Homo sapiens: one gene and its partners. The protein of the gene in region 1 purifies or fractionates together with the protein of each later gene. This does not show direct contact. Each region holds a gene or a part of one and is shown on either strand. Other genes may lie near its edges.

Region 1 (3,757 bases):
TTCCGTTTGCAGCCTGGGAACCTAAGGGTCTCACTGGCAGAAAGTGGAGCAGCCGGGATCTGAATGCGGGAACCTGTGTTCTTTCTTAGCCAGGACGCCGGGGCTTCCCATACATGTGGCTCCTTCAAATGACATATTTACTTATTTACGTACCGAGTAACTGAGTAACTTCTTCAACACAGGATGACATCACAACTTCACCAAAGTTAACTCACCCTCATCTCAGCATCTGTAGCTCTGCCATCTATTTTAGCAAATCCCTCAAAAATTGTTTTGTAGAGAATGTTCCTGCGTGTGTTGCTGTCGTCTGGAGGAAGGTACTCCAGGATGGAAGCCTGGTGCTGTCTGTACATGTCCAAAATAATTCGAACCGCCGTCTCGCGGACCTCATACACTCTATGCTCCAGGGCACTCACTGAAAACTAAAGTTGGGAGGGGCTCTTGTTACTCATTCTTAAAATAAAACTAATTTCTTCCAGCTTACAAAAAAGGTACATTATAAACATGTGAAAAATAAAAGAGAAAACATCCGTATTAAGTATTATGAAATACTTCAAACATAAAACCTCACGGATCTACCGTCTCATCGTAAGCCGTGTTATACTTTCATCACGCTTGTTTTGGATCTTTTTTAAGAAACAGAACGCTGTGGCTATAGTGCAATTTCATCCCTGCTGTGCGTCTCGGGGGCCCACAGTTTCTCATCCTCCTTGGAGGTGTGCGCTCCTGCGTAGCCGATGTGCAGATTTCAGGTTTTTGGATTTGGGATCCAAACCAGTAAGTATAATGGAAGTATTCCAGAATCCGAAAACAATCTGAAATCCTAAACACTTCTGGTCTTAAGCATTCCAGATAAGGGGCTTCAACCTGTACCTGATATTCTCCATCACACTGCTGTTATTGTCTCTTAAAGACAGGCCGGGCGCAGTGGCTCACGCCTGTAATCCCAGCACTTTGGGAGGCTGAGGCGGGCGGATCACGAGGTCAGGAGATCGAGACCATCCTGGCTAACACAGTGAAACCCCGTCTCTACTAAAATACACGAAAAAATTAGCCGGGCATGGTGGTGGGCATCCTGTAGTACCAGCTACTTGGGAGGCTGAGGCAGGAGAATGGCATGAACCCAGGAGGCAGGGCTTGCAGTGAGCCGAGATGGCACCACTGCACCTCCAGCCTGGGCGACAGAACGAGACTCCATCTCAAAAAAAAAAAAAAAAAAAGACAAAGAAATATTTTTTATGATTTGTTTCTCTCCACAGATAAAGATCTGCACACACCATGCACCACCGAGTAGGATTAGACAGCAGGACGCATGTGGGGGCCCCCATTTGTTGGATGAAACACTGGCTATTTTTCTGAAATCACTGCCTCAGTCATTCCTTCAACAAATGCCGATGAGACCCTCGCCACGCTCCAGGCACTGTGGTGAGTGCTGGGCCGCGTGGTGTGTCACACGCGAGGTCTGCTTACCTTCATCACGTTGTCAATGGTGAAGCCCGAGCTGCCAGTGCCCAGGTCTTTCAGCAGCCGGGCCAGGAGGCCCATCTGACTCATTGCCAGGTGAACTGAAGAGTTTGCTTTCAATGGCTGCACCAGGTAGGATGGAATAATTTGGAGAGACTTAACTTCTTTAAACAAGGCCATTTCCTATGAAAGCCAAGGTAATTTGTTAATTTTTACTGGAAAATGCTGGAGGCAGTTTAGTACAATTCAGCATGATCTTAAACTAAACACTGAAGGGAAAAACAGGGAAATACAGATTGATAGTGACAAGGAGCAATGAGAGCACTGATCCGTAAGCTTGTATTTCTATTTAAAGCGTAACAACCATTAGAAATGAAAATCTGAGCCACAGGAAATAAAATCATGAAGAATAAAACGATTTTATGTCTACTGAAAGCTTTTCAGAAGCGTAATTGAAAACTTGAAGGTTTCTGTTCTCAGTATTCTCAGCTTCAAGGAAAAGGTTTTCTCATTTCTAAAATTCTAAAAGAAATTAGAGCTGCTGCTAGAATCACCGTTATTTTAGTATTTATTAAATGTCAGCCAAGAGTGTATGATTCTGCAGTGATACGGTCACCAGTGGGTTAAGATGGAAAAAATGTAAGTACCATTACATATTTGAATGTCTCTAAACAAACAAGTCTTTACGTAATTAAGATATTTATCACTTAATTAACCGGATATAGAGAAAAAAATAAGATGTTGAATCATTAAGTTACAATCAGAAATAAACCTGTTTCCAATAGGTCTGCAGGTCTTATCACCTAAAATAATCTCTTATCGTGCTGGCCTGACTCACTCTGGATTTGGGCCTGTGAGTGACTCTGTACAAATCTAAAAGCTAAGAGAAGAAGAGCATTCTCCAGGGAAGTTTGGACAGTAAACTCCTTAACTACAAACAGATGCTGTTGAGTGTGTATTTCGTCCACTAACCGGCACACTGGTGCACAATTGTAACCCTCGATAGATTGCCTTAAGGTTGTCTCACATAGAGAGAACATTTGAGCACCACCAAACTGCTCAGAAATTAATGTGGCTTAAAAATAATTAAATGAAGCAATAACATGTGCTCATTTGCAACATATCTTTTGAAAGATGAACCCTCCTCACCCCCAAATTCTAGCTGTCATAACCAGGAGTGTATTGTAGCACATTAGGTCGTAACCAGGAGTGTATTGTAACCAGGAGTGTATTGTAACCAGGAGTGTATTGTAACCAGGAGTGTATTGTAGGTCGTAACCAGGAGTGTAGTGTAGGTCGTAACCAGGAGTGTAGTGTAGCACATTAGGTCGTAACCAGGAGTGTAGCGTAGGTCGTGACCAGGAGTGTAGCGTAGGTCCTGACCAGGAGTGTAGCGTAGGTCGTGACCAGGAGTGTAGCGTAGGTCGTGACCAGGAGTGTAGCGTAGGTCGTGACCAGGAGTGTAGTGTAGGTCGTGACCAGGAGTGTAGTGTAGGTCATAACCAGGAGTGTAGTGTAGCACATTAGCATGACAGCATTTCTTCTTACCTTTTTATTAGCATTCCTTTTCCTTATTTACTCTGAAAATTTAGGTTTATTAAATGAAACTAGATCTGTGGTTCCTCATATTTTGGAGAAATGACCCCTTTGGATTCTTCTTTTTGAGACACTGTCTTTCTCTGTCACCCAGGCTAGAGTACAGTGGCGAGATCACGGCTCACTGCAGCCTCAACCACCTGGGCTCAAGCCTCTCGCCTCGGCCTTCCAAGTAGCTGGGACTACAGGGGTGTATCAGCATGCCCGGCTAATTTTTGTATTTTTTGCAGAGATAGAGTCTCACTATGTTGGCCAGGCTGGTCTCAAACTCCTGGGCCCAAATGATCTGCCTGCCTTGGTCTCCCAAAGTGCTGGGATTATGGGCGTGAGCCACCCCGCCTGGCCTGGATTCTTTTTTTTTTTTTTTTAAGATGGAGTCTCACTCTGTTGCCAGGCTGGAGTGCAGTGGCGTGATCTCGGCTCACTGAAAACTCTGCCTCCCGGGTTCGATTCTCCTGCCTCAGCCTCCCAAGTAGCTGGGACGACAGGCACGCACCACCACACCCGGCTAATTTTTGGATTTTTAGTACAGAAGGGGTTTCACCAGGTTGGCTAGGATAGTCTCGATCTCCTAACCTTGTGATCCACCTGCCTGAGCCTCCCAAAGTGCTGGGATTACAGGTGTGAGCCACCGTGCCCAGTCTGGCCTGGATTCTTTTTTAAGAAGGATCTGCACATCACAAAATTTTGTGTAAAA
Region 2 (3,500 bases), on another chromosome or scaffold:
GTATCAATTATTGATTATTTAAATCTCAGCATACTTTACGTTTGCAGGCTCTGTTTTTTTTGTTTGTTTGTTTGTTTGTTTTGGTTTTTGAGACAAGAGTCTCGCTCTGTCACCTAGGCTGGAGTGCAGTGGCACGATCTCAGCTCACTGCAAGCTCTGCCTCCCAGGTTCACTCCATTCTCCTGCCTCAGCCTTCTGAGTAGCTGGAACTACAGGCGCCTGCCACCAAGCCTGGCTAATTTTTTGTACTTTTAGTAGAGACGGGGTTTCACCGTGTTAGCCAGGATGGTCTTGATCTCCTGACCTCGTGATCCGCCCGCCTCGGCCTCCCAAAGTGTTGGGATTACAGGTGTGAGCCACAACGCGCGGCTGCAGGCTCTGTTTTTAAGAGGTAAATCTTCATATATGCAAAGACTGTAAAGATACAACCATAAACAATAAAAGAATTGATCTGTTGATTTCTTTTTTTTTTTTTTTTGACAGAGTATTGCTCTGTCATCGAGGCTGTAGTACAGTGGCGTGATCTGGGCTCACTACAGCCTCTGCTTCCTGGGTTCAAGCAATTCTCCTGCCTCAGCCTCCTGAGTAGCTGGGACTACAGAGGTGTGCCACCATGCCTGGCTAATTTTTGTATTTTTAGTGGAGATGGGTTTTGCTGTGTTAGCCAGACTGGTCTCAAACTCCTAACCTCAGGTGATCCACTCTCCTTGGCTTCCCACAGTGCTGGGATTACAGGCATGGGCCACTGCGCCTGGCCTGATCTGTTGATTTCTAAGTGTTAGGTTCTCTGTCATAATTTTTATATGCATTATTTTCTTTTTTCTTCATAATATACTAGAATAAATGATATTTCTGTTTTATAGATTAGGCATAGAGCAGTTAAGGAACATGCTTGAGGTCATTCATGTTGAGATCAATAAGTGATAGAAGTATATTTCAAACTCAGTTCTTTCAATTAAACTATTTTCCTGAAAACTGTTTATCATCTACATACTATGTACACAGCTACTGGAGAAATAATACTTGGCCATGATGTCTTGAAAAAAGTTGTGAGTGACTTTATATTGTAGAGTGTCATATATAAATAATCTCATTTAGGTTTCTTTCAGCTGATTTATTTTTGGCAACTTAATCCTTAAATTATAAACTTTCTTACTCTATATTGTACCTATGCCATATTTATTAACCCAGTCTCTGTGATTCACCAAGTAATTCTTGAATAATTGTGTAGTTGAAATATGTTTTCTGTAAGTTACCACATGCTTTTAGGAGTGAGAAAAAGAAAAGTGGCCGTGATATCTAGAAACTGGTATTGCTAGAAACTAGCCTGGCATTCACAGTAACTTTGTGTTTTTCTGTTGAAGATAAACTATTGTACAGAATGTCAACATCAGATAAGGCCGCTCTGTGTCTATGATGGATCAAGACAAAAACATTCCATCAGTGTCTCCAAACACAGACAAAACGTAAATATTGTCCAAGAACCGAGATACCAAACATTCCCTTTCCCAGCTGATGTGAATGACTACTGCTTGTTTACCAGTTACAGCATTAGCCTCCCCCTATATTTTAGATTTATTGAGTGGTACCATCATAGAATTAACCCCACTTCTAACAGTGTTCAATCCTGAGCAAAGCTCCACTTCCTCAAATTAAGCCTTCCCCCAAATCACCCAACACATATAAGTCTTTTCCAATACCCTCTTACCACGATACCACAGGGTTCCCCATGGTGTGTGTTCTCCGTGCATTCCTTAATGCAATGAGTAGTACATCCAACTTAACTGTGGTAGTTTTCCTGGTGTTCTTTGGCTGGAGATCATTACCAGGAGAAAGCTCATTAGTGTCTTTGACTCTTTAATATTAAAGTCATTATAATCTAATCAGATTAGATACAGGAAAAATTTAGAAATGATTAGAAATGTACTTATATCTCGGATAAATCTTATGTTTTAGTTATGGCATATGCTATATTTACTATGGTTGTTTAAAAGTATGTTTTATTTGTACTTTTTGTACTTTTGATTACTGTAAGTTAAAATCAGTTCTATAATTTATAATGTTAAATAATTACAGTAAAGAGAAAGATAAGCATCTATAAATTCAAGAGGGAGATCTTTCAAAGCCTGGTTAGAACAACATGTAAATGAACATGTTAAATTAATAATTGTTATTAGGTGGTATGGAAACCTTAGTTCCATGTGAAGGTGGCATGTTACTGTTTTTTTTTTCTTTTTAGATAAATGACATTTCTTTTTTTTCTTTTCTTTCTTTTTTTTTTTTTTGAGATGGAGTCTCACTCTGTTGCCCAGACTGGAGTGCAGTGGCATGATCTCGGCTCACTGCAACTTCCACCTGCCTGGTTCAAGCGATTCTCCTGCCTCAGTGTCCCCCGGTAGTTGGGATTACAGGTATATACCACCATGCCTGGCTAATTTTTGTATTTTTAGTAGAGACGGGGTTTCGCCATATTGGCCAGGCTGGTCTCGAACTCCTGACCTCAGGTGATCCACCTGCCTCACACTCCCAAAGTGCTGGGATTACAGGCGTGAGCCACCGCCCCCAACCTAGATAAATGACATTTCTGTTTAAATTCTGTGCAAAATTCTATAGCAAAATATATGCGTTATCTCATCATTTTATTCCTATCAGACATAGAATATTTAGGGAAGATTAGAGGATTTTGAGGATTGATTGTTTTAAACATGAAAACTTGTTTGCTGTTGAGTTCAGAATTTTTACTAGGAAAAATCTTTCGTGACTATTAGCAAATTAAAAATGGCTGAAATAAGTCGGGACGGTGGCTCACACCTGTAATCCCAGCACTTTGGGAGGCCGAGGCAGGCGGATCACGAGGTCAGGAGATTGAGACCATCCTGGCTAACACAGTGAAACCCTGTCTCTACTAATAATACAAAAAAATTAGCTGGGCATGGTGGTGGGCACCTGTAATCTCAGCTACTCGGGAGGCTGAGGCAGGAGAATGGCATGACCCCGGGAGGTGGAGCTTGCAGTGAGCCGAGATCGCGCCACTGCACTCCAGCCTAGGTGACAGAGCGAGACTCCATCTCAAAAAAAAAAAAAAAAAGCTGAAATAAGCTGAGTGTGGTTGCTGGCAGTTATAATCCCAGTGATTCTGGTGGCCAACATGGAGGATCACTTGAGCTTAGCAGTTCAAAGTTACAATGAACTATGATCGTGCCACTGCACACTAGCCTGGGCAGCAGAGCGAGACCTCATCTCTAAAAAACAAAAAACAACAAAAGAAATTGGCCAGAATTTATCAACTTTTGTTGATTTGAAGTATATTTTGCTAAAACTATATATGTAAATATATATATATATATATATTTCTATTTTTAGTGTTTTTTTTTGAGATGGGGTCTTGCTCTGTTGCCCAGGCTGGAGTACAGTGGCATGCTCATAAGCTCACTGTAGCCTTGATCTCCTGGGCTCAAGTGATCCAATCCTCCTGCCTCAGCTTCCCCAATAGCTGGGAC
Region 3 (3,500 bases), on another chromosome or scaffold:
AGACCCCACTGCTTCCTCACTGCTCTGCAGCCGCCTTATGTGTGTTCCCCTCCCCCATTCTTAACCTGATTAGTTCCAGTGTCCCATCGTGGTTGTACTGTTTTCCCTTTCCTCTCTCTTCTAGAAGAACCTCTCACATTGGTTAACCTAACTCAGATAGCTGAAAGTGCCTGGAGAAGAGCTGCAAAACTGTGCAGACTGATTCCATTTTAGATTCAAGTGCAGAGATCTTAAATGGACTATAATACCAGCAACCCTGCCATGTTGCTGTAGTCGCTTTGGTTCCCACCCTCCCTTCCGTTCCCACTCTCCCTTCTCTTCGAACTGTCACCATGCTTCTTACTTGCAGCCGATGACCTTTTTTCTTTCTTTCTTTTTTTTTTTTTTTTGACAGAGTCTCACTCTGTTGCCCAGGATGGAGTGCAATGGCACGATCTCGGCTCATTGCAACCTCCACTTCCTGGGTTCAAGCGATTCTCCTGCCTCAGCTTCCAGAGTAGCTGGGATTACAGGTGCCTGCCACCACACCCGGCTAATTTTTGTATTTTTAGTAGAGATGGGGTTTTACCATGCTGGTCAGGCTGGTCTTGAACTCCCAGCATCAGGCGATCTGCCTGCCTTGGCCTCCCAAAGTGCTGGGATTACAGGCGTGAGCCACCGTGCCCAGCTGATCTTGTTTCTTGTTTCACTTTTTTTTTTTTTTTTTTTTTGAGACAGGGTCTTACTTTGTCACCTAGGCTGGAGTGCCATGGCGTGATCCCGGCTCACTACAGCCTTGACCTTCCTGGTTCAAGTGATCCTCCTGTCTCATCCTCCCCAGTAGCTGGGATTACAGGCACACACCACCACACCCAGCTAATTTTTGTATTTCTGTAGAGATGAGGTTTCACCACGTTGCCCAGGCTGGTCTCGAACTCATGAGCTCAAGTGATCTGCCTGCCTTGGTGTCCCAAAGTGCCAAGATTACAGGTGTGAGCCACTGCACCCAGCCTGTTTCACTTCTAATCACTAAATCTGTGTCTTTGCTCAGCACCCATATTCTCTGCTATCCCTCTGAATGCCGTTCCTGCTTCTCCCTTAAACTCCAGGCTCATATATCTGTAAGAATTAAAGAAAGAGGAGAGAAACACGAAGGGTGACTTGACAGTCAACAGGTTTGTTTCCTGGGTAACGGCCAAACTTCACCCTCTTACAATGGGCCTCAGTATAACAGTGGGCCTTAATAAGGACATTCTGTTCCCTTCAGGTGCACTAAGGGAAGCTAAAAGCAGACTTGGGGGGTATGCCTGCAGCTGCAGAAAGTTGTATAGGAACAGACACACAACTCTCCCTCCCAGATAAGCACAACAGAGAGACACAGAAACAGTTCAAGCCTTTGATAAACTCTCCCACCCTGAATCCTTAAAAACTCTTAGTCTGTAGGAGAGTGTGGCTCTGACCTAACTCGGTCGGAAGTCCCTCCCAGGTTTGAAATAAACCTGTTGACTGTCGAGCCACCCTTCGTGTTTCTCTCCTCTCTCCTCTTTCTTTGGTTCTTACAATACCCACTGACCATTTCGGAACCTCCACTGGAATGTCTAACAGGCAGCTCAGACTTATAGCCAAAACAGAGCTCTTGGTTTGACCTCAAAACAGTCCTTCCCCAGGTTTTCGTTGACTCAGCAAATCACATACTCTTCGGCCAGCTGCTCAGATCCCAGGGTTCTTCCTTCCCTTCTTCCCCTCATGTCCCACAACTAACTGGTCTGCAGATTGTGCCTCTTCTGCCTTTTCCATCTGGACTCACAGCGCTCATGGCCCCTCTTGCTTATCCAAATGATGCTCATGGCTGGCGTGGCCTGAGCAGTACTCATCTCCCTCTTCCCACTCCCCTCCAGTCTTCTCTGTAGAGCAGGCAACATGCATATTAAAAAATGGACATCAGCAGCCGGGCGTGGTGGCTCACCCCTGTAATCCCAGCACTTTGGGAGGCAGAGGAGGGAGGATTGAGCCCAGGAGTTCAAGACCAGCCTGAGCAATGGTGAAATCCTGTCTCTGAAAAAACCAAGGCTGGGCGTGGTGGCTCATGCCTGTAATCCCAGCACTTTGGGAGGCCGAGGCAGGTGGATCACCTGAGGTCAGGAGTTCGAGACCAGCCTGGCCAACGTGGTAAAACCCCGTCTCTACTAAAAATACAAAAATTAGCTAGGCATGGTGGCGGGTGCCTGTAATCCCAGCTACTCGGGAGGCTGAAGCAGGAGAATTGCTGGAACCCCGGAGGTGGAGGTTGCAGTGAGCCAAGATTGTGCCATTCTACTCCAGCCCAAGCAACAACAGCGAGACTCTGTCTCAAAAACAAACAAACAAAAAAAAACCTCACCAAAAACCAAACAAATGAAAAAACCAGAAAACAAAAGACTTGGGGCATAGTGGCACACTCTGTAGGCCCAGCTACTCAGGAGGCTGAGGTGGGAGGACTGCTTGAGTCCAGGAGTTTGAGGCTGCAGTGAGCTATGATCATGTCACTGCACTCTAGCCTGGGCAACAGAGGGAAACTCTGTCTCAGGAAAAAAAAAAAAAAAAAAAAAGGACATCAGTGGTGTCAGTCCCCTCCTCCATACTCTCTCTGAGCCTCCTGTTACTGTCAGCCTAATGTCCAAGCCACTTACCAGCTCTGTAAGGCCCACCTGACCTGGCCCCGGCCCCCCATTGCCTGCTGCTGTCTGCCTCACCCCTAGCTACATCCCAATACCCCAAGACTGCAGAGCTCTTCAGCCTGAGGCCTGTGCACTAACAAAGCCATCTTCCCCAGATCCAGGTGCTCAATCTTTGCTGAAATGTCACATTCCCAGTGAGGCCATCAACCACTCTATCTAAAATAACCCCATACCCGTCTCCTTCAGGTTCTGTCCCTTTCCTTGCGCTGTTTTCTTCATGTCTGGAATCAATTTCCACTCCGTCCATGTTTTTGAGCCTGTACTGTGTGCCAGGCACTGGTCTAGGCACAGGGGAACACCTGTCAGGTGCTGTTGAGAAAAATCAAGCAGTACAAAGGGCTGAGAAGTGATGGGCCGACCTCTTAGAAAGGGTGGTCAGGGCAAGACTCTCTGAGGAGGTGACAGTTAGGCAGAGACCTGAATGAGACGTATCTGAAGGAAGGGCAGTGAGCCAGAGTTCACGAGGGCAGGCGTGTGCTTTGGGTGTTCAGTGGGTGTCCACAGGAACCACACAGTGGCCAGTGTGGCTCAGGTTTACAGAACAAATGGGAGTGTGTCAGAGGCCAAGTTGTCTAGGGCTTTGGGAGTTGAGCCTAAGGAGCCTGGCCTTCATCTGGAGGGCGCTGGAACCACAGGAGGGTCCCAAGCAGGAGGGGAATGCTCACTTGTTAAAAGTGTAGAAATTGGATTGAAGTGGAGAGAAAGGAGGTGGGGAGGCAGTGGCAGAAAAATGTAAGGTTACAGACTCAGAAGAGATCTGACTGAGTGTGGTGGCTCACGCCTATAATCCCAGCATTTTGGGAG
Region 4 (3,082 bases), on another chromosome or scaffold:
TTTTTTTTTAAATAGGTCTCCATCATCACCAGTTCCAGTAGTGAAAAACAGAACCCAACAAACTCAAAATACATTACATTTACCACTAAAAAACAGTAGCTATGAGAGAGAGAATTTGATCTCAGGAAGTAATCAAACAGAATTATCATCTGGGATTTCTGAATCATCCCATTTTATTCCGTATGTTCGAACAAATGAGATCTATTACCTTGATCCCGATGCACCATTGTCTGGGCCTTCAACCCAGGACCCTCAGTACCAAAATTCACAAGGTAAGTAAATATTAAGCATTCTAACTGTAAAAATTGAAGACCCATGTAAACCCCGTCAACAACTTTAAATTCCAAATTAGTAATTCCTGCACTTAGTTCTATAAAGTTTCTTGAATATGTCTTAAATTTTTCTTAGTACTTTCCTAGGATACATACTTATTATAATGACTCCTGACAATATTATATAGCACAGGGCTATGTCATTTTACTAATGTAATTGACTGACTTGTTACTTTCATCTGGCTTTAGACTGTGGCCAAAAACGACAGCTATTTGATTCTGACTGTGTCAGGGATCCACTTCTTAATCCTAACATGGTGAAAAATAGGGATCGACAGCAAGCAATCCTTAAGGGACTTTCAGAACTGAGACAGGTATGAGCTTTTTCAAGTGTAGATATGTCTGTTCTTTATGTGGCGTGGGCGGTTGGGGGAACCTGTTGAACGGTTTGTTTTAAGTTACTTCGGTGCATCCCAGGATTTAACAAAAATATTTCAGTTCCTGTATGTTTGTTAGACACAAATAAAATGGGACTTTCCTAAGACTTGCTTTTACACTGCCGTCTTTGAGTAGTTCTTTCCAGTACGAAATCATCAGACAGTTCTAAAATTAAGACAAGTTTATTGAGTAAAAAAATGCATACATTGGAACGGCAAAACATCAATAAGGCCCTAAAACAAAAAATACAGTTATGCTTTAACAAATTCTTAGCAATGTGGCCCACGCTTTTTAAAAAATTGACGTGTTGGCAGTGTTTGTTAGAACATTGACGTACATCCCAAATAGTAATAAATTCAGTATGAAATTATACGCATAACCTTACTCACCATACTACTTTTTCTCCCAAACTATTGTGACTTCTTTTTGCTCTCTGATTAAAACAAACAGGTAACATCCTTACACCTTTGCTCCATCCCTTGGGCTTTAAAAAGAATGGCTGTAGTTAGTTTTGATTCACTATATACTCTCTGTACTTGAGGAAGAGTAAGCTGTGTTTAAAAGTGCCCTTTTCCATGTCGTCATGTACCAATACCCTCTGCATTTCAAAATGTTGACTCAGATGTTTTTCCCTCTACAGAACTAGAAAATTGTCCCCCCACTTTGGTCTATTTACTCATTTGAAGACAAACAGGGTTACTAAGAGTTTTACATAAGTTATTTCTTTAGAGTGACGAAGTGTTAGTTTACTTCTTGCTTAGTGGAGACAAAAATTGTGAGATAAAGAGGAAGGAATAGGATGTACACATTTACCCATCAATATAGCACCCAGTGTTATTTCAGCAGGACCCTTCTGTTAGCATCTAAGGTAAGGTTAGGACAGTCAAGATAAAATACTGGATGTTGGCCAGGAGCAGTGGCTCAAGCCTGTAATCCCAGCACTTTGGGAGGCTGAGGCAGGCAGATCATGAGGTCAGGAGATCAAGACCATCCTGGCTAACACAGTGAAACCCTGTCTCTACTAAAAATACAAAAAGTTAGTTAGTTAGTTAGCCAGGCGTGGTGGTGGGTGCCTGTAGTCCCAGCCATTCGGGAGGTTGAGGCAGGAGAATGGTGTGAACCTGGGAGGCAGAGCTTGCAGTGAGATTGCACCACTGTACTCCAGCTTGGGCGACAGAGCGAGACTCCATCTCCAAAAAAAAACAAAACAACAACAACAAAAAAAAAACACTGTATGTTAAGGGAGACTCCTTCAGTATCTAAGAGCACTTGGGGGTGGACTGGGGGAGAAGGGATGACTTCATTTACCCCCATAGTTATGGAGTCTTGAGTTCTAAGAAAATTTTCATCCCTATTGATTTTTATGCTAAAAACAGAATCTTACAAATGTGATAGCTATATATCCAAATGAGGTGGTCTAGTACAAGCATTTCTGAAAAAATTTTTGAATGACAAAATTTTATCCTAAGCGATATGTTTTCCAAGTGAATATAATTCTAGTTTAACACAACATTGCAAGTCAGGTGTGCACATTTTACTAACAAACATATATCAATGTGATTTCAGGGCCTTCTCCAGAAGCAAAAGGAGTTGGAAAGTAGTCTCCTGCCTTTAGCTGAAAATCAAGAAGAGAGTTTTGGTTCTTCATTTTAAATGTAGAAAATCAAATCCTTCACATTTGATTTGTGTCTTCCAAATTATAAAATGTGCTCACTGGCTCAACTGTATTTTTCAAATAGCCTAGATTTACTTATTTTTTTAAATGCTCATTAAAAACTTGTATACTATGTAGTAAAATGCTGTACTTGTTCTATACAATAAAACAGATACTTCTTTTGTAAAAGCTTAGTAGTAAAAAAAAAAAAAAAAAAACCGGTTCTTCTGCTCTGTCACCACCTGGGTATTGAAGCCCTATAAAAACACTTTCTACTTACCTTAATATAGTCTGGCGTTGCTGGGACCTCACAGTGTTCTTTCACACTTTTTATGTAACTTAGGAACTGAAATACCACTCATGCATTTGTTCTAAAGTGCCAAAGTTCTGTCTAACTTATTAACACGTCTAGACCCATAACTCCATAACTTTTACTGAAATAACACAAATTCAGTTTAGGCTCCTTCTCTAAATCCTGACATTTATTTGCACTATGACATTTATTTGTAGAAATTGCAATTTTCAAAAACATTTTTAAAAGTTAGCATTAGTAACAAGTTAGTAATTAGTATTAGAGGCAGTAGTTAGGAATAGATACGGGTTTGAAAGCTATCTCCACTGTATCTGTCTAGTATAGCATTAATGTGTTCAACAAATGGTAATTACTACTAAGACCACCTCAAAAATATATTCCCATTATACTTCCATTTTGCTAAAA

What was found.
Region 2: the proteins of CEP104 (region 1) and CSPP1 purify together in Homo sapiens (co-immunoprecipitation; one large-scale study listed by IntAct). This does not show direct contact.
Region 3: the proteins of CEP104 (region 1) and ARMC9 purify together in Homo sapiens (co-immunoprecipitation; one large-scale study listed by IntAct). This does not show direct contact.
Region 4: the proteins of CEP104 (region 1) and CCDC66 purify together in Homo sapiens (co-immunoprecipitation; one large-scale study listed by IntAct). This does not show direct contact.

What each region holds. Positions count from the first base shown.
Region 1 is NC_000001.11:3,829,576-3,833,332, forward strand, and holds part of CEP104 (centrosomal protein of 104 kDa), read right to left. Parts: intron 1,648-3,757; coding exon 1,471-1,647; intron 423-1,470; coding exon 216-422; intron 1-215. UniProt on the Homo sapiens protein: Required for ciliogenesis and for structural integrity at the ciliary tip.
Region 2 is NC_000008.11:67,067,392-67,070,891, forward strand, and holds part of CSPP1 (centrosome and spindle pole-associated protein 1), read left to right. Parts: intron 1-708; exon of another isoform or gene 709-1,413; coding exon of another isoform or gene 1,414-1,466; intron 1,467-3,500. UniProt on the Homo sapiens protein: May play a role in cell-cycle-dependent microtubule organization.
Region 3 is NC_000002.12:231,201,631-231,205,130, forward strand, and holds part of ARMC9 (lisH domain-containing protein ARMC9), read left to right. Parts: intron 1-3,500. UniProt on the Homo sapiens protein: Involved in ciliogenesis. It is required for appropriate acetylation and polyglutamylation of ciliary microtubules, and regulation of cilium length. Acts as a positive regulator of hedgehog (Hh)signaling.
Region 4 is NC_000003.12:56,619,256-56,622,337, forward strand, and holds the end of CCDC66 (coiled-coil domain-containing protein 66), read left to right. Parts: intron 1-15; coding exon 16-272; intron 273-521; coding exon 522-646; intron 647-876; exon of another isoform or gene 877-2,276; coding exon 2,277-2,363; 3' UTR 2,364-2,582; downstream 2,583-3,082. UniProt on the Homo sapiens protein: Microtubule-binding protein required for ciliogenesis. May function in ciliogenesis by mediating the transport of proteins like BBS4 to the cilium, but also through the organization of the centriolar satellites.